Linked DNA regions of Homo sapiens. The protein of the gene in region 1 purifies or fractionates together with the protein of each later gene. This does not show direct contact. Each region holds a gene or a part of one and is shown on either strand. Other genes may lie near its edges. The genes, in order: KLHL40, CEP85L, KIF2C, GNL1, ZNF106, ZNF746 and ZNF81.

The links.
Region 2: the proteins of KLHL40 (region 1) and CEP85L purify together in Homo sapiens (affinity purification with mass spectrometry; 2 studies listed by BioGRID and IntAct, with this or other methods). This does not show direct contact.
Region 3: the proteins of KLHL40 (region 1) and KIF2C purify together in Homo sapiens (affinity purification with mass spectrometry; 2 studies listed by BioGRID and IntAct, with this or other methods). This does not show direct contact.
Region 4: the proteins of KLHL40 (region 1) and GNL1 purify together in Homo sapiens (affinity purification with mass spectrometry; 2 studies listed by BioGRID and IntAct, with this or other methods). This does not show direct contact.
Region 5: the proteins of KLHL40 (region 1) and ZNF106 purify together in Homo sapiens (affinity purification with mass spectrometry; 2 studies listed by BioGRID and IntAct, with this or other methods). This does not show direct contact.
Region 6: the proteins of KLHL40 (region 1) and ZNF746 purify together in Homo sapiens (affinity purification with mass spectrometry; 2 studies listed by BioGRID and IntAct, with this or other methods). This does not show direct contact.
Region 7: the proteins of KLHL40 (region 1) and ZNF81 purify together in Homo sapiens (affinity purification with mass spectrometry; 2 studies listed by BioGRID and IntAct, with this or other methods). This does not show direct contact.

The regions. Positions count from the first base shown.
Region 1 is NC_000003.12:42,688,537-42,690,790, reverse strand, and holds part of KLHL40 (kelch-like protein 40), read right to left. Parts: intron 2,182-2,254; coding exon 2,074-2,181; intron 1,923-2,073; coding exon 1,737-1,922; intron 1-1,736. UniProt on the Homo sapiens protein: Substrate-specific adapter of a BCR (BTB-CUL3-RBX1) E3 ubiquitin ligase complex that acts as a key regulator of skeletal muscle development.
Region 2 is NC_000006.12:118,466,592-118,470,091, reverse strand, and holds part of CEP85L (centrosomal protein of 85 kDa-like), read left to right. Parts: intron 1-788; coding exon 789-1,020; intron 1,021-2,551; exon of another isoform or gene 2,552-2,633; intron 2,634-3,500. UniProt on the Homo sapiens protein: Plays an essential role in neuronal cell migration.
Region 3 is NC_000001.11:44,763,837-44,766,051, reverse strand, and holds part of KIF2C (kinesin-like protein KIF2C), read right to left. Parts: intron 1-2,215. UniProt on the Homo sapiens protein: In complex with KIF18B, constitutes the major microtubule plus-end depolymerizing activity in mitotic cells. Regulates the turnover of microtubules at the kinetochore and functions in chromosome segregation during mitosis.
Region 4 is NC_000006.12:30,546,490-30,549,989, reverse strand, and holds part of GNL1 (guanine nucleotide-binding protein-like 1), read left to right. Parts: intron 1-2,459; coding exon 2,460-2,638; intron 2,639-2,715; coding exon 2,716-2,878; intron 2,879-3,153; coding exon 3,154-3,294; intron 3,295-3,500. UniProt on the Homo sapiens protein: Possible regulatory or functional link with the histocompatibility cluster.
Region 5 is NC_000015.10:42,442,642-42,446,141, reverse strand, and holds part of ZNF106 (zinc finger protein 106), read left to right. Parts: intron 1-1,160; coding exon 1,161-1,315; intron 1,316-1,879; coding exon 1,880-1,940; intron 1,941-3,500. UniProt on the Homo sapiens protein: RNA-binding protein. Specifically binds to 5'-GGGGCC-3' sequence repeats in RNA. Essential for maintenance of peripheral motor neuron and skeletal muscle function.
Region 6 is NC_000007.14:149,477,310-149,480,809, reverse strand, and holds part of ZNF746 (zinc finger protein 746), read left to right. Parts: intron 1-3,054; coding exon 3,055-3,246; intron 3,247-3,500.
Region 7 is NC_000023.11:47,885,402-47,888,901, forward strand, and holds part of ZNF81 (zinc finger protein 81), read left to right. Parts: intron 1-2,597; coding exon 2,598-2,724; exon of another isoform or gene 2,725-2,814; intron 2,815-3,500. UniProt on the Homo sapiens protein: May be involved in transcriptional regulation.

The DNA.
Region 1 (2,254 bases):
GCACCCACAGCTCCAACTGCAACCCTTTGCAATCCAAGTCCCAGGCACCCATGCCCCCAACCCCATTCCCCTTCCCTGTCCCTCTGGTCTTCCCTTCCTTCCCCATTCTCTTGCTCCTCCACTTTCCTTTCCTTGTCCTCTTGCCATTCTATCCAACCTGTCCAGCAAAGTCCACCATGGATCTCCCCACTGCCCCTACTCCTCTCCTGAACTAACTCCACCCTCCAACTCACAACCCCAGCCCCTAGCAGGCCCCCAGCCTTGCCCTGGACGCAGTCCTTTTGCCCCTCAGCGGCCCCTGCAGCCCCACCCACCTTGCACACCTGCTCTATCCTTCTTCTCCCTTCACAGCCCAGTTGTTCTCAATGTATCTTCGCTACCCTGGCTCCTGCCTTGGGCCTTAGTCCCATCCTCCAAAACTGACCTTCCTGAGGTCCACAGTCACTGCACACGCACTGAGGTCCTACAGCACACAGCCCTGCTGACGTGACTTTCCTCACCCATCTCTTCGGCCTCACCTTCGTGGCCTCCTTCCTGGATAATGCAGCTGCCTCCACCATCAGGGCTTGGACCTCAGCTCCTCCCATTTACACTCTCTCTCCTGAGGGAGCTTGGCCCCTCCGTGTGCTACTGACCCCCAGATCTCTCCCTCCAGCTCAGCCCTCTCTCTCCCGGGTGGGGTCCTTTTGGACACCCCCAGGTACTTCAAGTCCACATGTCCTAACTGGACCCTCACTTTCCCTACCCAATCCCAATGATTATCCAGTAAATGGCCTCCCACCCTCACTCAGAAGCATGTACTTCTCCCCCTCTCACCCCCACATCCAATCAATAGCTAAGCCCTGTTTCTCCCACCTCCTAGACTCTTGCTACTCAAAGTGTGGTTCATGGCCCAGCAGCGTCAGCATCTCCTGGGGGTGCGTTAGAAATGCAGACTTACAGGCTTTCAGCCCTCCGCATACCGAGAATCAGAATCTGCACTTTAAGGCGATCCCCAGGAGATTTGCATGCCCATCACAGTGTAAGAAGCCCTGGCCTGTCTTTGTCCGGTGCATCCCCTCAACCCCATCTCCGCTGTGCCCCCAGCTCCAGGCCTTTATCACCCCTGACCTTCCTGACCCCTGGGAAATCCCTAATCTGCTCTCTATATCAGTTGCCATGAAGTACTTTAGTAGAACACAGATGAGATACAGTCCCTCTCCTGCTGGCCCCCGCTCCAGCCCCAGCACCGCCATCCCAACTCCATCACCCACCCACCTCCACCCAGCTGGAGCAACACCTTCCCTCCTATAGGCCTTGAGTTTTTTCTCCAAACTGCCTCAGCACCACCTTTCCTTAGTCTGGGGCAACCTCCTCCCACCACCCTCACCCCTTTTGCGAGCTGAGTCCAACTGTCTCTCAGTTCAGTTTTCTCTTTTCTGATGTCCCAGGCAGGGCAGCTTCTGTCTTGTTCACTGCTATATCCCTTGCACCAGGCCATTGCCTGGTATGAGTCCCTGAATGAGGAACCTGGCATCCCCTCCCCCAGCCCTGGGAGCCCCCTCCTGCAGACCAGGCTGGCCATAACCCTTGCCCCGCCTCCCCACCTCACTGCTGATCAGGAGAGAAAGCCTATTTCTATACTGATGTCCAAAGTCAACACTGGAGACCCAAGACAGGGACTGCAGCTCCTGCTGGGGCTGACAGAAGCCCAAAGCCATGCAGTTGTCCTTGGCGGAAGGGACAAGCTTTCATACTTGTTGTCTGTGATGCTGTACACTTCGGCAGAACTGGTCAGCCCTGTGTCGGTGACCCCAGCTGCCACGATAATGCGGCCATCATGGACAGTGGCCCCAAAGAGTGAGCGGGCGGTCTGCATGGGTGCCAGCTCCTTCCACTCAAACTTCTTGGGGTCATAGACGCACATCTTGTTCAGGCACTTCCTGTGGGGTGGAGGGTGGGGATGGGTGGAGAGAAGCAGGAGCCCAGCCACGCCTCCCTGCAATCACCTGCCGGGGCAGCCAGGACAAACCCCTGACAGCCTCTGGGAGATTCTACCTCTGCTCCACAGACTCACTCCAGGCCCAGCCTCACCTGTCACTGCCTTTGCCGCCAATTACGTAGACAAGGTCCATGTGGGAGAGCACTGTGTGGCCATACACCACGTAAGGCAGCGGGTCCGATTCACCCCATTTGAATGACCTGGAGGAGACGGGAGTGGGGGTGGGGGAGGGCACCCATCCAGGCTCGGCTCAGTCCCTGTCTCTGCACCCAT
Region 2 (3,500 bases), on another chromosome or scaffold:
CTCGCACCGAAGTTTGTGGTTCCTATCAACATTAACATAGATGCTTCCCCCCACCAATATGCAAAAAGTAGTTTCAAAGTAATTAAACCACTATTGCTACTAACAATAAAAACCACAGAGTGAGGTTCAAAGTTACTTTTTAGTTCTTTTTATCCTTGGAATAAATCTCATTATAGAAAAATACAGGCTGGGTATGGTGGCTCACACCTGTAATCCTAATACTTTGTTTTGGGAACCTGAGGTGGGCAGATCACTTCACCCCAGGAGTTTGAGACCAGCTTAGGCAATGTGACAAAACCCTCTCTCTACAAAAAATGCAAAAATTAGCCAGGCATCATGGTGTTTACCTGTGGTCCCAGATATTCAGGAGGCTGAGGTGGGAGGATCACCAGAGCCCGAGGAGGTCAAGGCTGCAGTAGTGAGTCATGATTGCGCCACTGTACTCCAGCCTGGGTGACAGATTGAGGCCCAAAAAAGAAAAATACATACACAACCAACATGCTTATTACGTGAGAGACTCCTAGAAACTGAGACTGGATTTATGTTTCCTCCCTTGGATATACGCTAAAGCATCAGATGGCACAGAGAAACAATTTCCACTATTTAAATTGTTATTTTTCTATGTGTTTTTTTTCCCACTGCATATATGTAGTTGAATTTGGTTAATGTGCATATAATATGACTCCATCGTTTTGTTTATAGACTTGGGGGAGAATGTTAACCTGTATGGCTTTGAGTACCTTTCCTCTGTTCTAACAATCTGATGTTTGTTTTCTTTATCCTTGCAGAACCAAAGACAAACAGATGAGACATGCTCTTTATTGGATCAGGGCCAGGAACCTGACCAATCTAGGCAGCAGACAGTTCTTTCCAAACGGCCACTATTTGATTTGACTGTGATTGATCAGCTGTTCAAGGAAATGTCCTGTTGTTTGTTTGACTTGAAAGCATTGTGTAGTATTCTTAATCAGCGTGCTCAGGGCAAGGAGCCTAATCTTTCATTATTACTGGGAATAAGATGTAAGTGTCTGATGACTTGTCCTTATTTTGTGGCAATTAGAAACCTATCTTCATGAATCAGGAACTTCCGACTGCCTTTTCTCTGTTTATTTTTGTAATCTCTTTTCCTACTTAGAATCAGTCTGTGGGTTTATGTATACCTGTTATTACTTCATTGCAAGAAGTGAGTAGGGTTATAGCTGACATTAACTGCCACTTGGTAGAATGCCTGGTGATGTTTCCTATGTTGAATCTGTAAATATGTGAATAGAGTGGTAGTTAGGTGTGACTTCCCATTTTCTCTTCCAAAAATAATGATTCCTTCTATTTGCTTTCATGTGTTAGTTGTATAGATTAAGTGACCCAACCATATTGTCCACTGGTAAAATATTTGAGAAATATTTTTGCTTTCCAGTGCAGTATATGTTCTATGGCAGCTGCTTCACGTGAGTGCCAGTGATTTCACATGAGCCAGTTTTCACAGCCTACAAATCTGTTGCCTTTGTCATGCGTACCTGCTGGCTTAATGTGACACCCATTCACTCTTGGCCTCAATTCTGTCTTCCTCCACACATAATTGTGGGAGCTGCCACAGTAATAATCCTAGTGTCCCTTTCTTTCTGTGCTACTTTTGCAGAAACGCTCATCTCTGTACGTGGTTCCAAATCAGGATGTTAGTCTCTTTATAATAGAGAAGAAATGAACTTGGAAGGAAATAGGAATGCAGTAAGACCATATAATAAGGTTTATGGGCCAACGTGTATTTAGTAGCTGCCTAATATTATGGTTAATAATACTGGTTTTGTTTCAAACAAACTGATTTTGTTTCTAGTTTCATCAAAAAGATTCCACCATTTTGCATCATAATAGTTATTTTGGCAAATCAAATAATGCTCTTGACCAAAGTATATCACTTGTTAAATGAAACATTATCTGTGCTCAACTATGTCCCTTTCATTTCATAGACATTTGTACACATACACAAATGTGGATATCGAAAAAACACATAATGTTTAAGTATATTCACTCACGGAGTAAACATTTATCAGATGCCTTCTATGGTCCAGACACTAAGTAAGTGCTGGTAATGCAGATAACCTGAACACAGTCCTTGTCCACACATTAACCAAATTATTAGAGCATTCTGATAGGTGCTATAGTTGAGATGTGGACAAAGGACAGTGGGAGCACAAGAGGAAAAAAACAACTAAATCTACGTGGGAAGGGCTGTGGAGACTCCACAGAGTAGTTGGTGTTCAGTGTCGCTCTCAGACGAGGAAGAGGAGAAGTTTGCCTGGTGAACATGGAGTGCTTTAATATCTCTTGGGAGCAAGAAGCAAAGCTCACACACAAAGGGAACTCACTTTCTTCATGATTTTAGAGTTGGTCACCCTTTTAATTACTTTAGAGTCTCCTACATTTTCACTGTCATAAGGTAGCATTTGTTAAGTTTTTCAGTAATAGAGTAGTAGAGCTATCCTAATGTGAATCTTACCACGCCCACCTCCCAATACTCCTTCTAGTCTTTAAAGTTTGACCCCAGAATCCTTACCTTATATTTGGCATTGTGAAAGTTTTACCAGCCAGTTGATTTGTGAAAAACCAGTCACTTCATGGCTCCATTTACTCACCCTGTCCTTCTGAAAACTGTGCACTACCTTGGTTTCCATGACATCATTCTCTAGGTTCTGCTTCTGCCTTTATGACTGCTCAGTCTCTGTCTTCTGTGGACTTCTCTGCCACTTAATTATTGGTATCCCCAGAAGCCTTTTGTTACTGGTTTTGTGTTTGTTTCTTTTTATTCAGTACTTTATCTGAGTGATCTTATCCACTCCTGTTTTTTCTGTTACTGCCATACCTTTCACCTAGACATTTATCTCCTTTACCCAGACATTTATCTCCTCTGGGCTCCAGATTATATTCCCATGTATATTAGAACTGGCTATTTCAAATGCATCACAGACTCTACACATTCAAAACCAGAACACACTTTCCTTCCCTCCCTGAACCGGTTCCTCTTCTCAGTGAGTAACACCACCATTCACCTGTCACTTGAACCCAGAATTTATTCTCCACTCTGCTTTTTCCTTCATCTGGCGCCTGTGCCCAATCCCTGCCCATCACTCAAGTTGATGATGATTGAGTGCTATCAGTTCTGTCATCTGCTTACTACATCTAACATTCCTGCCCTTCTATCTCCATTGCACTATTGCCTTAATTTAAGTTTTCATAACCCGTCACCTATACTGGTCTCTCTGACAACCATCTTTCTCATCCCCTCCCCCTAATCCATTTTACATTGTTGCCAGACAGATCTGTCTAAACTATGAACCTGGTTTCCTAATGCCTACACTGCTCTGTGGTCAAGATAGGTAGCTACTACCTACCTCTATAGCCTTATTTCTTGGTACTCTCCTTTGTCACAGTTTGTACTCTACCATTTTAGAGCTAGATACTGATTTTCTTGAGGTTTCTCAAATTCTATCATACTGTTTTGCTTT
Region 3 (2,215 bases), on another chromosome or scaffold:
TAAGACGGAGTCTTGCTCTGTCGCCAGGTTGGAGTGCAGTGGCGTGATCTCGGCTCACTGCAACCTCCGCCTCCCGGGTTCAAGTGATTCTCCTGCCTCAGCCTCCCAAGTAGCTGGGATTACAGGTGCCTGCCACCATGCCTGGCTAATTTTTGTATTTTTAGTAGAGACAAGATTTCACCTTGTTAGCCAGGCTGGTCTCAAATTCCCGACCTTAGTTGATCTGCCTGCATCAGCCTCCTAAAGTGCTAGGATTACAGGCGTGAGCCATCACGCCCGGTCAAATGATTCTTTTTAAATAATAGGTATACAACTCAGCCTCCCGAGTAGCTGAGACTACAGGTACGCGCCACCACACCAGGCTATTTTTTTTTATTTTTTAGTAGAGACAGGGTTTCACTATGTTGGCCAGGATGGTCTTGATCTCCTGACCTTGTGATCTGCCTGCCTTGGCCTCCCAAAGTGCTGGGATTATAGGCATAAGCCACCGCGCCCAGCCCGAGTGACTTTATTCTTTCACCGTACTTGTCACCAAATCCTCCTCAATTCTGCTCCCTAAATGGTTTTTTTCTTTCTTTCTTTCTTTTTTTATTATTATACTTTAAGTTCTAGGGTACATGTGCACAACGTGCAGGTTTGTTACATATGTATACATGAACTATGTTGGTGTGCTGCACCCATTAACTTGTCATTTACATTGGGTATATCTCCTAATGCTATCCCTACCCTCAGTTCTTTTTATTATAATTTTTGCTGCACACACCACCTTTGGGATATTTATTTATTTTTATTTTTTGTAGAGATGGGGCCATGTTACCCAGGCTGGTCTCGAACTCCTGAGCTCAAGTGATCTTCCTTCCTTGACCTCCCAAAGTGTTGGGATTACAGGCATGACTCACTGCACCTGGCCAAATGATTATTTTATTTTATTTTTGAGACAGTCTTGCTCTGTTGCCCAGGCTGGAGTGCAGTGGCACCATCTCGGCTCACTATAACCTTCGCCTCCTGGGCTCAAGTGATTCTCCTGCCTCAGCCTCCCAAGTAGCTGGGATAACAGATGCCTGCCACCATGCCTGGCTAATTTTTGTATTTTTAGTAGAGACGGGGTTTCACCATGTTGGCCAGGCTGGTTTCAAACTCCCGACCTTAGTTGATGTGGCCGCCTCAGCCTCCCAAAGTGACAGGATTACAGGCGTGAGCCATTGCGCCCGGTCAAATGATTCTTTTTAAATAATAGATATACGACTGGGCGTGGTGGCTCACGCCTGTAATCCCAGCACTTTGGGAGGTCGGGGCGGGAGGATCACCTGAGGTAGGGAGTTCGAGACCAGCCTGACCAACATGGAGAAATCCCGTCTCTACTAAAAATACAAAATTAGCTGGGCGTGGTGGCACATGCCTGTAATCCCAGCTACTTGGGAGGCTGAGGCAGGAGAATTGCTTGAACCTGGGAGGTGGAGGTTGTGGTGAGCCGAGATGGTGCCGTTGCACTCCAGCCTGGGGGACAAAAGCGAAACTCCATCCCCCCCCAAAACAAACAAACAAACAAACAAACAAAAACCAACCAGATATATAGGCTGGGCATGGTGGCTCACACCTGTAATCCCAGCACTTTGGGAGGCTGAGGCAGGCGGATCACTTAAGATCAGGAGTTCAAGACCAGCCTGGCCAACATGGTAAAACCCCATCTCTACTAAAAATACAAAAAATTAGCCAGGCATGGTGGCACGCACCTGTAATCCCAGGTACGCAGGAGGCTGAGGAAGGAGAATCGCTTGAACCCAGGAGGCGGAGGCTGCAGTGAGCCAAGATTGCACCACTAAACTCCAGCCTGGGTGACGAGTGAGACTCTGTCTCAAAAACATATATATATAGAGAGAGAGTACATATTTTGGGGGGTACCTTGTAAGATTTTCATGCTTGTATATCTAAATGGTTCATGAATCTCATGTCCTCATTCCAATCCCATGAACACGGACACAGTTTGGTCTAGGCACTAGTTTCTCTTTTTTTTTTTCTGAGATGGAGTCTTGCTCTGTCACCCAGGCTAGAGTGCAGTGGCACGATCTTGACTCACTACAACCTTTGCCTCCCTGGTTCAAGTAATTCTCCTGCCTCAGCCTCCCAAGTAGCTGAGATTACAGGCGCCCGCCACCATACTCGGCTAATTTTTTGTATTTAGTAGACATGGGGTTTCGCCACGTTGGCCAGGCTG
Region 4 (3,500 bases), on another chromosome or scaffold:
TAGCCGTGTGTGGTGGTGCGTGCCTGTAGTCCCAGATACTCAGGAGGGTGAGGCAGGAGAATTGCTTGAATCCTGGAGGCAGAGGTTACGGTGAGCCAAGATCATACCACTGCACTCCAGCCTGGGTGACAGAGCAAGACTTCGTCAAAAAAAAAAAAAAAAAAGCCATGGAATTGGATGAGATGTAGGAGAGAAAGGAAATAGTTGGAGAAGAGGAGGTCAAGGACTGAGCCTTAGGACAAGCCAGCATTTAGTTGGGCAAAGGACAGTGAGAAGGAGGAAAACCAAGGGAGCGTCCCAGAAGTCAAATGAAGAAGGTGTTTGAAGAGGAAAGGAGGAATCAGCTGTGTCAACTGTTGCTGACAGGCCAAATGAGAGAACAGAGAGCTGCTCAGCAGGCTTGGCAATGTGAAGATCCGTGGTTTCAGTGGGGTGGAGAAAGCCAAACTGGAGTAGGCCCATGAGAGAAGGTGCAACAACTTCACATAACATTGTGTGAAAAGAGTCTGACCCAATAGCATCCATACTGCACAATTTCAGTTCTATCAAGTTTGAAAGCTGCAAAATTAAGCTGCATTGTTGAGAGATACACAGGTCATAAACTAAAGAGAAATGTAAGGAGTTGATTTCCTTAAAAGGATAAAGCTTGCATGTATAGAGGGAGAGGATTATGATCAAGAAGGATGAGTGGCGGCCGGTATGGTGGCTCATCCCTGTAATCCTAGCACTTTGGGAGGCTGAGGCAGGCGCATTACTTGAGGTCAGGAGTTTGAGACCAGCCTGGCCAACATGGCAAAACCCTATCTCTACTAAAAATACAAAAAGTTAGCCAGGTGTGGAGCCGCACGCCTGTGGTCTCAGCTACTCAGGAGGTTGAGGCACGAGAATCGCTTGAACCTGGGAGGATGAGGTTGTAGTGAGCCAACATCGCACCACTGCACTCCAGCCCGGGTGAGGGAGTGAGACTCTGTCTCAAAAACAAAAACAAAAAAAACAAGGACAGATGGAACATGTTGTCACACATTGGGTGGTATGGGGTTCATCAGGCTGCACATGTATGTTCTGTGCATTTTTTTGTATGTTGTAGTTTACAGTTACAAAGAAGATAGCAGGAAGAAATGGTGAAAAAAGTAGGTAAGTCTTTTAAGGAGTTTTCCTGCAAAGCGGACAGAGAACTAGGTCTGGTGGTGGTCGTCAAAGGAGAACTTTTTTCTCCCTCCTTCCCTCCCTTCCTCCTAGATACTTGCATGTGTTGTAAAGAGTGAGCACAGTGGTACATCTTTTCTTAGCCACAGTCAGCTGCCCAGGAGCAGTGCTGAATGGGCAGAGCTGGATTTTACAGGGTTGGGATTTTGCCAGGTGAGTAAGATAGAGGGGAGAAGTGGGACCAGGGAGTTCCAGGTCTGTGAACGGGCCTGGCTGAGGAGCTGGATCATGAAATCTGAGTCAAGTAAGAAGGAAATTGAGGACACGAGTTGGGTATTGCATAGTGTTACTGTGTTAAGGTCAGGGGTCAAAGACTTACTGGCATGGAGTAACCAGAGTAAGTGAGCTGGAAAGATGAGTTGTCAGGGCAGAGAGGGGTGCTTGGAATTGAGGCTTTGGAGCTGTGAAGTGACAAGATGCAGGTATTACCATGGGAGTGGGCAGCTGAGGTGGGGTAAAGGAGATGCTCTGTGGAAGGGAGATGAAGGCACTGAAGTCAGCCAGAAACACAAAAACTGGTGGTGGTGAGTGAGCAGAGTGGCAGTGAGCCCCAAGGCTTCCAGTTTTCTCCTTGGACAAGTCATCGTAATTATTATTATTATTTTTTGAGATGGAGTTTCCCTCTTATTGCCCAGGCTGGAGTGCAATGGTGCAATCTCAGCTCACTGCAACCTCCGCCTCCTGGGTTCAAGTGGTTCTCCTGCCTCAGCCTCCCAAGTAGCTGCAATTACAGGCGCCCACCACCACGCCCAGCTAATTTTTGTATTTTTAGTAGAGATGGGGTTTCACCATGTTGGCCAGGCTGGTCTTGAAGTCCTGACCTCAGGTGATCCACCCGCCTTGGCCTCCCAAAGTAATCACGCTGGGATTACAAGCGTGAGCCACTGTGCCAGGCCAAGTCATAGTAATTATGAGATGTGGATCACTGGTACTGGGTACTTACTGTACTGCAGGCACTGACCCACACAAGTTGTATTGGTTATCTCATTTAATCCTGACCACCCTGAGGTAGGGAGGTGTCCACACTGTAAAATGAAGAAACAGAGGCTCAGAAAGTTAGTTGCCCTGACATCACAAAGCTGGTAAGTGGAAGGGCCAGGATTTAACCCTGGCAGCCCAGAGCGTGATTTGTATTCTGCAATACCATTTCCTTAATTTCTGAGCCTTAGTTCCCCTTTTACCTATAGGTATAGCACCAAGTCCCATCACAGAGTAGAAACCTGTTAAACGTTAATTTTCCTTGCCTTCCTCAGGTTTCCCTAATGTGGGAAAGTCCTCGCTGATCAATGGGCTGGTGGGGCGGAAAGTCGTGAGTGTCTCCAGAACCCCGGGCCATACCCGATACTTTCAGACCTACTTTCTTACCCCCTCTGTGAAGCTCTGTGACTGCCCAGGCCTCATCTTCCCATCTCTTCTGCCTAGGCAGTTGCAGGTATGACGGGGAGGGTGGGTAAGGGAAAGAGAGAAGGTGGGACATTGAGGAAAGTACTGAGTGCTCATTTCCCTCAGGTTCTGGCAGGGATCTACCCTATCGCCCAGATCCAGGAGCCCTACACTGCTGTGGGCTACCTGGCCTCCCGAATTCCCGTGCAGGCCCTGCTCCACCTGCGCCACCCAGAGGCTGAGGACCCCTCAGCGGAACACCCCTGGTGTGCCTGGGACATCTGTGAAGGTGAGTTCCATGTGCCTGGCTTCGCCCCACCTGGTTTCAGCTGCTCTTCCTTACCTGCCTCGCCTTTTACCCTTCCCTGTCTCCTTTCCTCTCCTCAGAGATTCTGCCATTGATGAAGCTGCTGTCCACTCACCCCTAGATTTTTGTTGCATAGCCAGTAAGATCTCTGGCCTGGAATGTTTTGGGGAAAACTGGAAGGACTGTGTTATGGGAGTGGGAGTATAACTGGTACCTGGTTAATGCTTTCCCTTTCCATTATTCTTTTCTTCCTCCAGCCTGGGCAGAGAAACGTGGTTACAAGACAGCCAAGGCGGCTCGGAATGATGTGTACAGAGCAGCCAACAGTCTCTTGCGGCTGGCAGTGGACGGCCGCCTCAGCCTGTGTTTTCATCCCCCAGGCTACAGTGAACAGAAAGGTCAGAGCCCAGATATTCTTCCCCAGCCCCCTGCTATAGCGTAGGTAAAAGGGTGTGGGCTTTGTGGCCAGAGAGAGGGTCAAACCTGGATTCTGTACCTGTTGGCTAGCTCTGTTACTTAACATCTGTGATATTTTCCTGATCTGCAAACTGAGGGTAATAATTGACCCTTAGCATAGTGATTGTAAAGATTGAAGTTGATGTGC
Region 5 (3,500 bases), on another chromosome or scaffold:
CAACTGTAGAAGAAATATATGATGTCACATAGACTTGTAAGCCAAGGTTAGTATACCACTTGGACAATATAAAGCCAGGAAGTTTCCTTGAGCCTTTTCAGTGGGATGAAATGTGTTGGCCCTCTTGGTCATGTATAGCCATTTCTCTCACTTTCAGTTTTTGAGGCATCTTGGTTGCTTCCCCGCTGCCCCACCTCCACACTCCCTTCCTTGGTTGCTTTTCTAAAGTGAATTATGGAAAGAAGTTATTAACATTGCTCCCTCATTGATGTATTTCTGTGATTCTTGCTTTTCCTTGACTCTAACCCAGTTCTAGTATAAGGGCTAGTCCTGGAAGTGATTGGATGAGGCTTGAGTGAGTGGATGTGATGGATAAGGGAGGAGTCAAGGACAACCCACATTTCTGGCTGGGCCAACCAGATGGAGCATATGTAGAGCTAGAAAACTCCATGAGAGGAGCAGATTGAGAATAGAGAAAGATGATGAATTCCCTCAGGGATTCTTTGACTTAAAGGACCTTTGAGATAACCTAGCTAGAAATATCATAGTCAGTAGTTGGATATGTGGGTGTGGAGCTTAAGGGAGAGGTCCTGGCATATTGAATAGGAAACAGACAAACACAATGATGGTAAATACATACACAGAACATTTTATTCAAACTAAGTTAAATGTACTATTTCAAAGCTGTATTTTCTTCAGGAAGTCTTCTCTAATAAAAACAATTTTTAAGTCAACTAACAGACTAAATATGGATTGGAAAGAGAGTGCAAGCAGTCTAGGTCTAGAGTCCAATCTAAGCAAAAGTCCTGTGTGAAGACAGTGGTAGATAAAGGAAGAATGGGAAACGAGTCCTAGAACAGGTGGTTTGCATGGGACAGATTTCACCTGGAAAGGTGGTGGTAGAAGGCGGTGATTAGATGAGACAGAATGATGTGATGGTACACTGGAGCTTATGAGATACCTCCATCTTAGCAGTTCTCACTTTTGGTTCCTAGCTTTGATATCATTGTGCTTGACTAAATGTTTTATGAATTTCCAATGACCTACTGAGGAGAACATAAAGTCTTATCCTAAATAATGGGTATAGTTTAGTCTTCTGAGCTGTGTGATGAGAGGGAAATCTCTCGTATTAACCTGAACCTTATGATTTCTTTTGGCAGAACGTTCTCAGGTTGACCAGCTGCTGAATATTTCTTTAAGGGAGGAAGAACTTAGTAAGTCATTGCAGTGCATGGATAACAATCTTCTGCAAGCCCGTGCAGCCCTTCAGACAGCTTATGTGGAAGTTCAGAGGCTACTTATGCTCAAGCAGCAGGTAACAGCATGTGGAGGATTTAATAAAAATGGATCATCTCCGAAATCTTGTTTTGTGCTGCCAAACCCATGTCTGGAGTCACCCCAAAAGCAATGGCAGGGGAGTTTCCACAAGGGAAGTGCCCCAGACTGTGCCTAATGGGGGACAGTTAGGATTCCAAAGAAAGAAGCACTAAATGCCAGGGTGATGAGTCCAAAGCATTTATTAGGAGAGCTTACTTACAGAGTAGGCTGCAGCAGTCCCCACAAGGGTGTTCTCCCTAGGTATATCCACAGCCAGGGGGCGGGATGTGGAGTTTATATGAGGGTTTAAGGAATTTGGCTCAGGGCCAGGGCCAATTTCTTTCAGTGTTTTGGGCAACAACCTAGATACTTTTATCAGTGCCTGGGAATCTTCAAGGCCCCAGGTAGGGTTCAAGCCTGCTGGAGAAAACCTGCGGCTGGCTGGGTCACAGAGCAGTCAAGACACTCTGATTTTTGGTCAGGACATAGAAGAAAAATGGGGAGACCTAGAGGACCTTACAAGTTGGATTTCAAAATGCTTAATAAAATACTTTATTTTTAGATAACTATGGAGATGAGTGCACTGAGGACCCATAGAATACAGATTCTACAGGGATTACAAGGTATTCAGAGGGCATCTGATGGATTGGGCCCTCTATAGCGTGTTACTTTTTTGTTTTCTCTGCTTTTTTTTTTTTTTTTTTTTTTTTTTGGAGACAGAGTCTTGCTCTATTTCCCAGGCTGGAGTGCAGTGGTGCAATCTCTGCTCACTGCAACCTCTGCCTCCCAGGTTCAAGTGATACTCGTGCCTCAGCATTTGATTAGCTGGAATTACAGGTGCCCACCCCACCCCCAGCTAATTTTTGTATTTTTAGTAGAGACAGGGTTACAGGGTTCGCCATGTTGGCCAGACTGGTCTCGAACTCCTGACCTCAGGTGATCCGCCTGCCTCAGCCTCCCAAAGTTCTGGGATTACAGGCATGAGCCACTGCACCAGGCCTTTTTGTTCTCTTTGAGGGGATGAAAAGTAGTCATGAAAAGGTCATGTTATTTCTCTCCTGTCTCCTTGGTTTCATCCTTTTTTTTTGTTTTTTTGAGACAGGGTCTTGCTCTGTCACTCAGGCTGGAGCGCAGTGGCACGATCATGGCTCACTGCAGCCTTGACCTCCTGGGCTCAAGCAATTTTCCCACCTCACTCCCCCCAGTAGCTGGGACTACAGACGTGTGTCACCATGCCTGGTTATTAAAATTTCTAACTTTTAATTTTATAAAATTATGATTTAAATTGTAAAAATTTAAAGGTTATAAAAAGTTATATAAAATTATAAAAAGTTATAAAAATTAAAAAATGCTTTTATAGAGATGGAATCTCCCAGTGTTTCCCAGGATAGTCCCAAACTCCTGGGCTCAAGCAGTCCTCCTAACTTGACCTCCCAAATGGTTGGGATTACAGGCCTGAACCACCACGCCTGGCCAGTTTCTTCCTTCTATAGAAAGGTCTGTAAACTGTGCATCCCAAAAATGTTTAGCAACAGACAATATGTTATGGAAAGAGTTTTGATTAGGAATCAAAAGGCCTGGGTTCAAATCTTCTCCCTTCCATTAGTAGCCTATATAACTTTGGATAAGTCATTTAAAATTTGAAAAATTGGAATGTTGCTAGGCACAGTGCCTCATGCCTGTAATCCCAGCACTTTGGGAGTCTGAGGCAGGTGGATTCCTTGAGCCCAGAAGTTTGAGACCAGCCTGGGCAATGTGGTGAAACCCTGTCTCTACAAATAAATACAAAAATTATTGATAATTATTATTAGTAATAATAATAATTCCAGCCTGACCAACATGGTGAAACCCCATCTCTACTAAAAATACAAAAATTAGCTGGGCATGGTGGCGTGCTCCTGTAATCCCAGCTACTCAGGACGCTGAGGCAGGAGAATCGCTTGGACCCGGGAGGTGGAGGTTGCAGTGAGCCGAGATTGCGCCACTGCACTCCAGCCTGGGTGACAGAGTGAGACTCTGTCTCAAAAAAATAATAACAATAATAGCTGGGCATAGTGGCATGTGCCTATAATCCCAGCTGCTTGGGAGGCTGAGGCAGGAGAATTGCTTGAGTCCAGGAGGTCAAGGCTGCAGTGAGCAGTGTTTGCACCACTGCACTGCAGCCTGGGTGACAAAGCGAGACC
Region 6 (3,500 bases), on another chromosome or scaffold:
GTTCACTATTCACCATTCAATCATTTCCATTCTGTTGTTTAACCTACACATTGGATTTTAAAATTTCAGTTATTAGCCAGGCGCGGTAGCTCACGCCTGTAATCCTAGCACTTGGGGAGGCCGAGGCTGGCAGATTGCCTGAGCTCAGGAGTTCAAGACCAGCCTGGGCAACACAGTGAAACTCCATCTCTACTAAAATACATAAAAATTAGCTGGGCCTAGAGGCATGCACCTGTAGTCCCAGTGCTACTGGGGAGGCTGAGGCAGGAGAATTGCTTGAACCCGGGAGGCAGAGGTTGCAGTGAGCCAAGATCGCGCCACTGCACTCCAGCCTGGGCAACAGAGCGAGACTCCATCTCAAACAAACAAACAAACAAACAAACAAAACAACAGTTATTTTTTCTCACCATTCTAAAGAATGTTACATTTGATTCTTTTTCAAAATTTGGTCAGTTTTGATAGTCTTATTTCTCCATACTTTCATTCCCCCTTTTTATTTCTGTAAATAATTGAACTTTATATTCCTTATATGATAATTTTAATATCCAAAGTCATTGGTCATATTCTCCAGTTCATGATTTCTGCTGAGTTTGTGGTGCTGATTTTCTCGAGATGGTGATGTGTAATTGTGAGCTCATTGATTATTTGAAAGCTATGTTTAAAATGCTTTCCTCCTGAGAATGTGTGTGTGTTCCTCAGCTGGTCATCTGATGCCAATGCAGACTTAGGACCACTTCAAGCTACAGTCTTGACCTGGAAGTTTTTGGGCCACAATGGGCCTCCTGAGTAGCTGGGACCACAGGGGATGCCACCATGCCTGGCTAACTTTTTTTAAAAACTTTTTTTTTTCCCCTCTGTGGAGACAGGGTCTTCTATGTTGCCTAGGCTGGCTTTTTTTGTTTGTTTATTTGAAACAGGGTCTCACCTTGTCACCCAGCCTGAAGTGTAGTGGCACAAACATGGCTCACTGCAGCCTCAAACTCCTGGGCTCAAGAGCTCCTCCCACCTCAGCCTCCCAGACTGCTGAGATTACAGACATGAGCCACTGTACCCAGCCTACTCAGCAATTTTAGATATTCCACATTGGGAGGAATTTCTGTTTCTCTGCACATCTAGCCAGCCATATGTCAGAAATAGAAGAGCTAAATGCTGTTTTTACATCTGTTGAGATGATTATATTGTTTTTGCTATTAATCTTAACTTTGTTCGTTATATTTTCTAGTGTTATCCTTGAGCTCTCAGAATAAACCCAATGTGTTCATAATATGTCTTTTTCTTTTTTGAAAATATATTGCTGAGTTTGATTTGTAATTCTTTCATTTAGAATCTTTGCATATCTGTTCATATATGAGATTATTTTTTAAATTTGTTCATATACTACCCCTCTAGTTTGTGCAATAAAAATTGTCTTAGCCTCATAAAATGAGTTGACAGATGTTTTCTCTCAACATTTGAAGATATTCCATTGTCTTCTGATATCCTAGTTGCTGAAGAAAATCTCCTGTAGTCTGAATGTCATTATTTTCTCTTGGGTACCTTTTAAGGTTTTTCTCTTTGTCTTTGCTGTGGTTCCATTTCACATGAATGTTGTCTAGGTTTGTTTGTTTGTTTTATTACCTACTTGGGAATTGGTCTGTTCCTTCAAACTGTGGACTTAACAATGCCTTCAGTTTTGGAAAATTCTCAACCATTATTTCTTTACCTATTGCCATTACTCATTTCTCCATTCTCTTCTTCTGGGATTTCTACCAGCATGTGTTGGAATTTCTCATTCTGTCCTCCAGGTCTCTTAACTTTTTCATATTTTTCATTCTTTATCTCTCAGTGTTGTACTCTGGGTTATTTCCCTGGATCTCTCTCCCAAGTCACTAATATTCTCTCTAGCTGTGTTCAGTCTGTTGTTGTTGAGCCAGAGCCATCCATTTGAGTTTTTCATTTCCACAGCTGCCTCTGTCGTTTCTAGAATGTTGAGTTCTTTTTCAAATCTGCCTTTTTCAAAATAATTTGCTGTTCTTGCCTTAAAGATTCTGTTCTTTATCTCTTTGATGATCTTAGACATACTTAGGTTACTGTATCATTCAGCCTCTCCTTTTTTTCATTAGTTCTTGGGAGTGAACTCTGCCATGACTCTCATGGCCATTTGGCACCTCTTCTGTTTTGTAAGTTTTAGTTTTTCTTCTGGTTTTAGTTTTCCCTTAGGAGCCCCCTGTGGACTGCATTGTGTGGGTGCCCCTCTGAGGCAGATCTGCATTTGCCCATGCTGGGGCCTCCTGAGTTGCCATGGCTCTCAGCCAATTTTTCTGTGAATTTCTCAGTTTATGGTGTCTGCCCGTGTGGGTAGTGTGAATTCTGTGTGGACATGGGATTCCAAGTTTTTATGGGTTTCTTTCCCACACATAGCCCTGGACAAGTAGGCTGCTTCCTGGTGGCTCCCGCAGGCAGACAGAGTTTTCCTAGTCCCCATCTCACAGACAGGCCAGAGCCTATGACTCCTGGCTTCAGGCAGGCGGCTCGGCCACACTCCCAACCTCACATGGACATGAAAGCCCAGCCCCTAAGGCCTGTATCCTACTCCAACAACTCTCTAGGTCACTTGCCTTCCACTGTAACTCGTGATTGACTCTGTGTGTTCTCTGTCATTCTTGCCTCTGGGATCTTTTCTTTTGCACTCACTTAAATATATGAGGGGGGAAGGTTTTGGGGGGACTTGGGGTTCACTTTTGTTCAGCATTTCTTGTGTTTCAAGTGAGGGCAGGCCATCCCCAGGGCAACTTAGTCTCCCTCTGGACCACCAGCCTAGCCCTGAGAATGTGCTTGTGTATTCTTCCCCTCCCCCGCCTCAGCCTTTCCTACCCTACCCGCATTCCCAATACCATGTGACCTCAGGCTCTGCCCTAGGCTCCCATCCTGTTTGCTGCTGCCTCCCTTCCCACCAGGCTCTTTTGCTGTTGGACCCTTGTAAGGCCCCTGTGTCTATCTCTCCGGCTGGATGCGTGTATGCCCCAGGGCTGAGGGGCCGTGATGCTGTATCCTCACACTCACTCCCTTTCCTAGGCTCGGGGCCCCCAGTTCCCGCCCCAGACCTCTTGATGCAGATCAAGCAGGAGGGTGAGCTCCAGCTCCAGGAGCAGCAGGCCCTGGGCGTGGAGGCGTGGGCAGCCGGGCAGCCAGATATTGGGGAGGAGCCCTGGGGCCTCAGCCAGCTGGATTCCGGAGCAGGAGACATCTCCACGGATGCCACCTCTGGTAAGTGGCTGAGACGGGGACATAAGGAACAAGTTGCAGGGATCACAGGAGGGACAGGGGAGGGCTCGTGGCAGCATGGGGGAGCTGTGGGCCCTCAACACTTCCGGCCTGACAACTTTAGAAATTTTCCCGTCTCGAGGTAGGACTGTACTAAAGGACTTGTCTCGAGCCTCTCTCGGGTGGCTGATGCTGTCCCTGGGTGTCTCTCTGGCCCTGTTCCAGTGGCCCCTATATCACCGTGAGGCCGCTTCTCT
Region 7 (3,500 bases), on another chromosome or scaffold:
CCTTCTGGGTCTTAAATTGCATGTATGTTAGATCTTTTGATTTTTGTCTTACTCATCTGTTTTAGTTTGTTTGTCCTACTGTAACAACATTCCTGAGATTTGGTATCTTATAAACAATAGAAATTTATTTCTCACAATTCTGGAGGCTGAGAAGTCCAAGATAAAGGCACCAGCAGCTTAGGTGTCCAGTGAGGGCTGCTCTCTGCTTCCAAGATGGCGCCTTGTTGCTGTGTCCTCCAGAGGGGGTGAATTCTGTGTCCTCACGTGGTGGAAAGTGTGGAAGGTCAAAAAGGAAGGATGTAGCTAGTTCCCTCCAGCCCTTTTAAAAGAACACTAACCCATTCATGAGCCCTCATGACCTAAATAACTTCCAAAGGTCATACCTCTTAATACTGTTACATTGGGATTAAATTTCAACATGAATTTTGGAGGGACAACAAACATTGAAACCATAGCATCATCCCTGAGACTCCGTTTGTTTTTATTTTCAATTTTGTTCTCTCTGCTTTTCAGATTGGATAATTTCTGTTGGTCTATGTTTAAGTTAATTACCTCTTTCTTCAGTTACCTCTATTCTTCTGTCAAGCCCATCCAGTGAACTTTTTAGTTTCAGATTGTATTTTTCAGTTTTTTAAAATAGTTTATATTTCTTAGTTGGCCTATCCTATTTAATCATTCATTATGAACATATTTGTATGTTTTTGAGCATAATTATAACTAACTGATTTAAAGTGCTTTTCTGCTAATTCTAGCATCTGGATCACCTCAGGTCAGTCTCTGAGTGCATTTTCTCTTGAGCCTCTTCCCTTTCTCTCCACACCTTTCTGTCTCTTTCTCTGTTGAGTTGTTTTGGATTGTATCTTTGTTGTGAAACATACATTAGAGATGCTTGATTCTGTTTAATTCCTCTGACTATTGTTGATTTTTTTGTTTTGCTTTGTGTAGGGAGCACTTAACTTGGCTAGACTCAAACTAGGAAATGTTTTCTCTGTGGTATGTGGTAGCTCAAATTCCAGTTCATTCAGCTGGTCAATCAGAGATCTGGGCAGAGTTCATTCACAGAATTTAGGCACCCTTCTCTCTTTCAATGCCTTTCTGGATTCCCCCTTGATTTTCCAATGGTAGTGATGACTGCAGAACTCCCCTTCAATTCTTCAAGTCAATAACACTGGTGGTTTTCTTTTCTTTTCTCTCTCTCTCTTTTTTTTTTTTTTTTGAGACAGGGTCTCACTCTGTCACCCAGGCTGGAGTGCAGTGGCACAATCATAGCTCACTGAGCCTTGACCTCTCAGGTTTAATCAGTCTTCCCGCCTCAGCCTCCCAAGTAGCCGGGACCACAGGCATGTACCACTTCTCTTGGAATTTTAGTTACCCCACGTGGCACTGACTGGGCCTATTCACAAGCTAAAGTGCCAGCCTCTCTTCTAAGTGTCAGCTCTCCTCCCATAGATGCCTGACTTGGGTTGCTCCTTAGTATCTTTAGATAGTTTTTAAAATATTTTTTGTTCAGAGTTTATAGTTGTTATGTGTATGAAGGTTGGTCTGATAAAAGCAATGCAGTCATACTGAAACTTAATTTTTGTTAATTTTTGTATATGGTGTGAGGCGTGGGTCAAGGTTTATGCTTTTTTCCTAATACTGATATCTATCTCTTCCAACACAATTTGTTGAAAAGACTTCACTTTCGCCCATTGAATCACATTGGCACTTTTGTCAAAAAACAATTGTCCGTACATGTGTGGGTCTGTTTCTGGACTTTATTCTGTTCTAATGATATATCTGTCTGTGCATACATCATCCCATACTGCCTGTATTACTGTAGCTTTACAGTAAATCTTAACATTAGGGGGTATAAATCCTTCATACTTTTTCTTGCTTTTGGCTATTCTGGGTCCTTCGCATAGCCATATAAACTTTAACATTTGTCAGTTTTTACCAAAATCTTGACAAATAAGTGATTAAACAAGTAGAAAACAAATCAGTGATGCAACAGGAAATTTCAACAACACTCAACCAACTTGATTTATACATTACAGAACAATACAGCCATCAATAGCCAAATATATATTCTTTTCAGGGAGACATGGACCATTATCCTAGATAGACCATATGTTGAAATCATACAGAGTATACTTTCTGACCATGACGGAATTAAATTAGAAATGAGCAATAACAGGGCATCAAGAGAAAGAGGCCATATTTTTGAAGAGTAAATGAAAGCAACAGGAGAGGGAGCTATGTGAAATTTTTAAAAATTGGGATGGAAGGGATATATGTGCTTCCTTCTACAAGTTATAGGGCACAAATTTCTCATAAAAATGAGCAACAAAATAGGATCAAGGTCAAATCCTTACTAAAAATTATAATTTTTAATAAATGGAAGAGTAAATGTCATACATAATAAATAGCAGAAATTTATGATTAGATTTTTATATTCTACACAATATTACATATGTGTATATATATAAACTAAGTATTTAATGGGCATACCATATCGTATATTATGATGAAAAAGTATCAAAAAGAGCTTCCTATCTGTTTTCTCTCCATCCTCCAGTGCTGATCATGTTGCCTTGAACAAGATTGTGTTGTTACAGGTATCAGTGTCATTTGAGGATGTGACTGTGGACTTCAGTAGAGAGGAGTGGCAGCAACTGGACTCTACTCAAAGACGCCTGTACCAGGATGTAATGTTGGAGAACTACAGCCACCTGCTCTCAGTGGGTAAGGACAACCATCCTGTGAAGTTGTGAGGAGCCTGTTATGGGTTAAATTGTGCCCCCAAATAAAATATGTTGAAGTCCTAATACCCCAGCCCCCCAGAATGTGACCTTATTTGGAAATAGAGTCTTTACAGAAGTAATCAAGCTAAAATGAGATCATTAGGGTGGGCTTTAATCTAATATAATTGGTGTCCTTATAAAAAGGAGAAAACTGGACACAGACACATATACACATACGCACGCACACACACACACAAACACACACACAGAGGGAAGACAATATGAAGATACACAGGGAGAAGATGGAATGTGACTAGAATGATACATCTGTAAGCCAAGAAACACTTGAGGCCACCAGAAGCTAAGAGAGGCCTGGAACAGTTCCTTCCCTAGCACCTTCAAAGAGAGTATGGCCCTGCTAACACCTTGGTTTTGGAGTTCTGGCCTCCAGAACTGTGAGACAATAAATTTCTCTTGTTTTGAGCCCCCTAGTTTGTGGTACTTTGTTATAACAGCCCTAGGAAACTAATACAGAGTTTTACACTTGGAAATGGGGTGTGGCTGTGATAAATACCTTAAAAATGTGAAGTGGCTTTGGAATTGGGTAACGGGTAGAGGCTGGAGCTAGGGGCTAGGTTTTGATATGCTTGACAGAAAAAGCCTAGATTGCGTTAACGAGACTATTGGTAGAAACATGAATGTTAAAGGTACTTTTAGTGAGATCTCAGATAGAAATAAGGAACATATTATTGCAAACTGGAAGAAAAGCGATCCTTG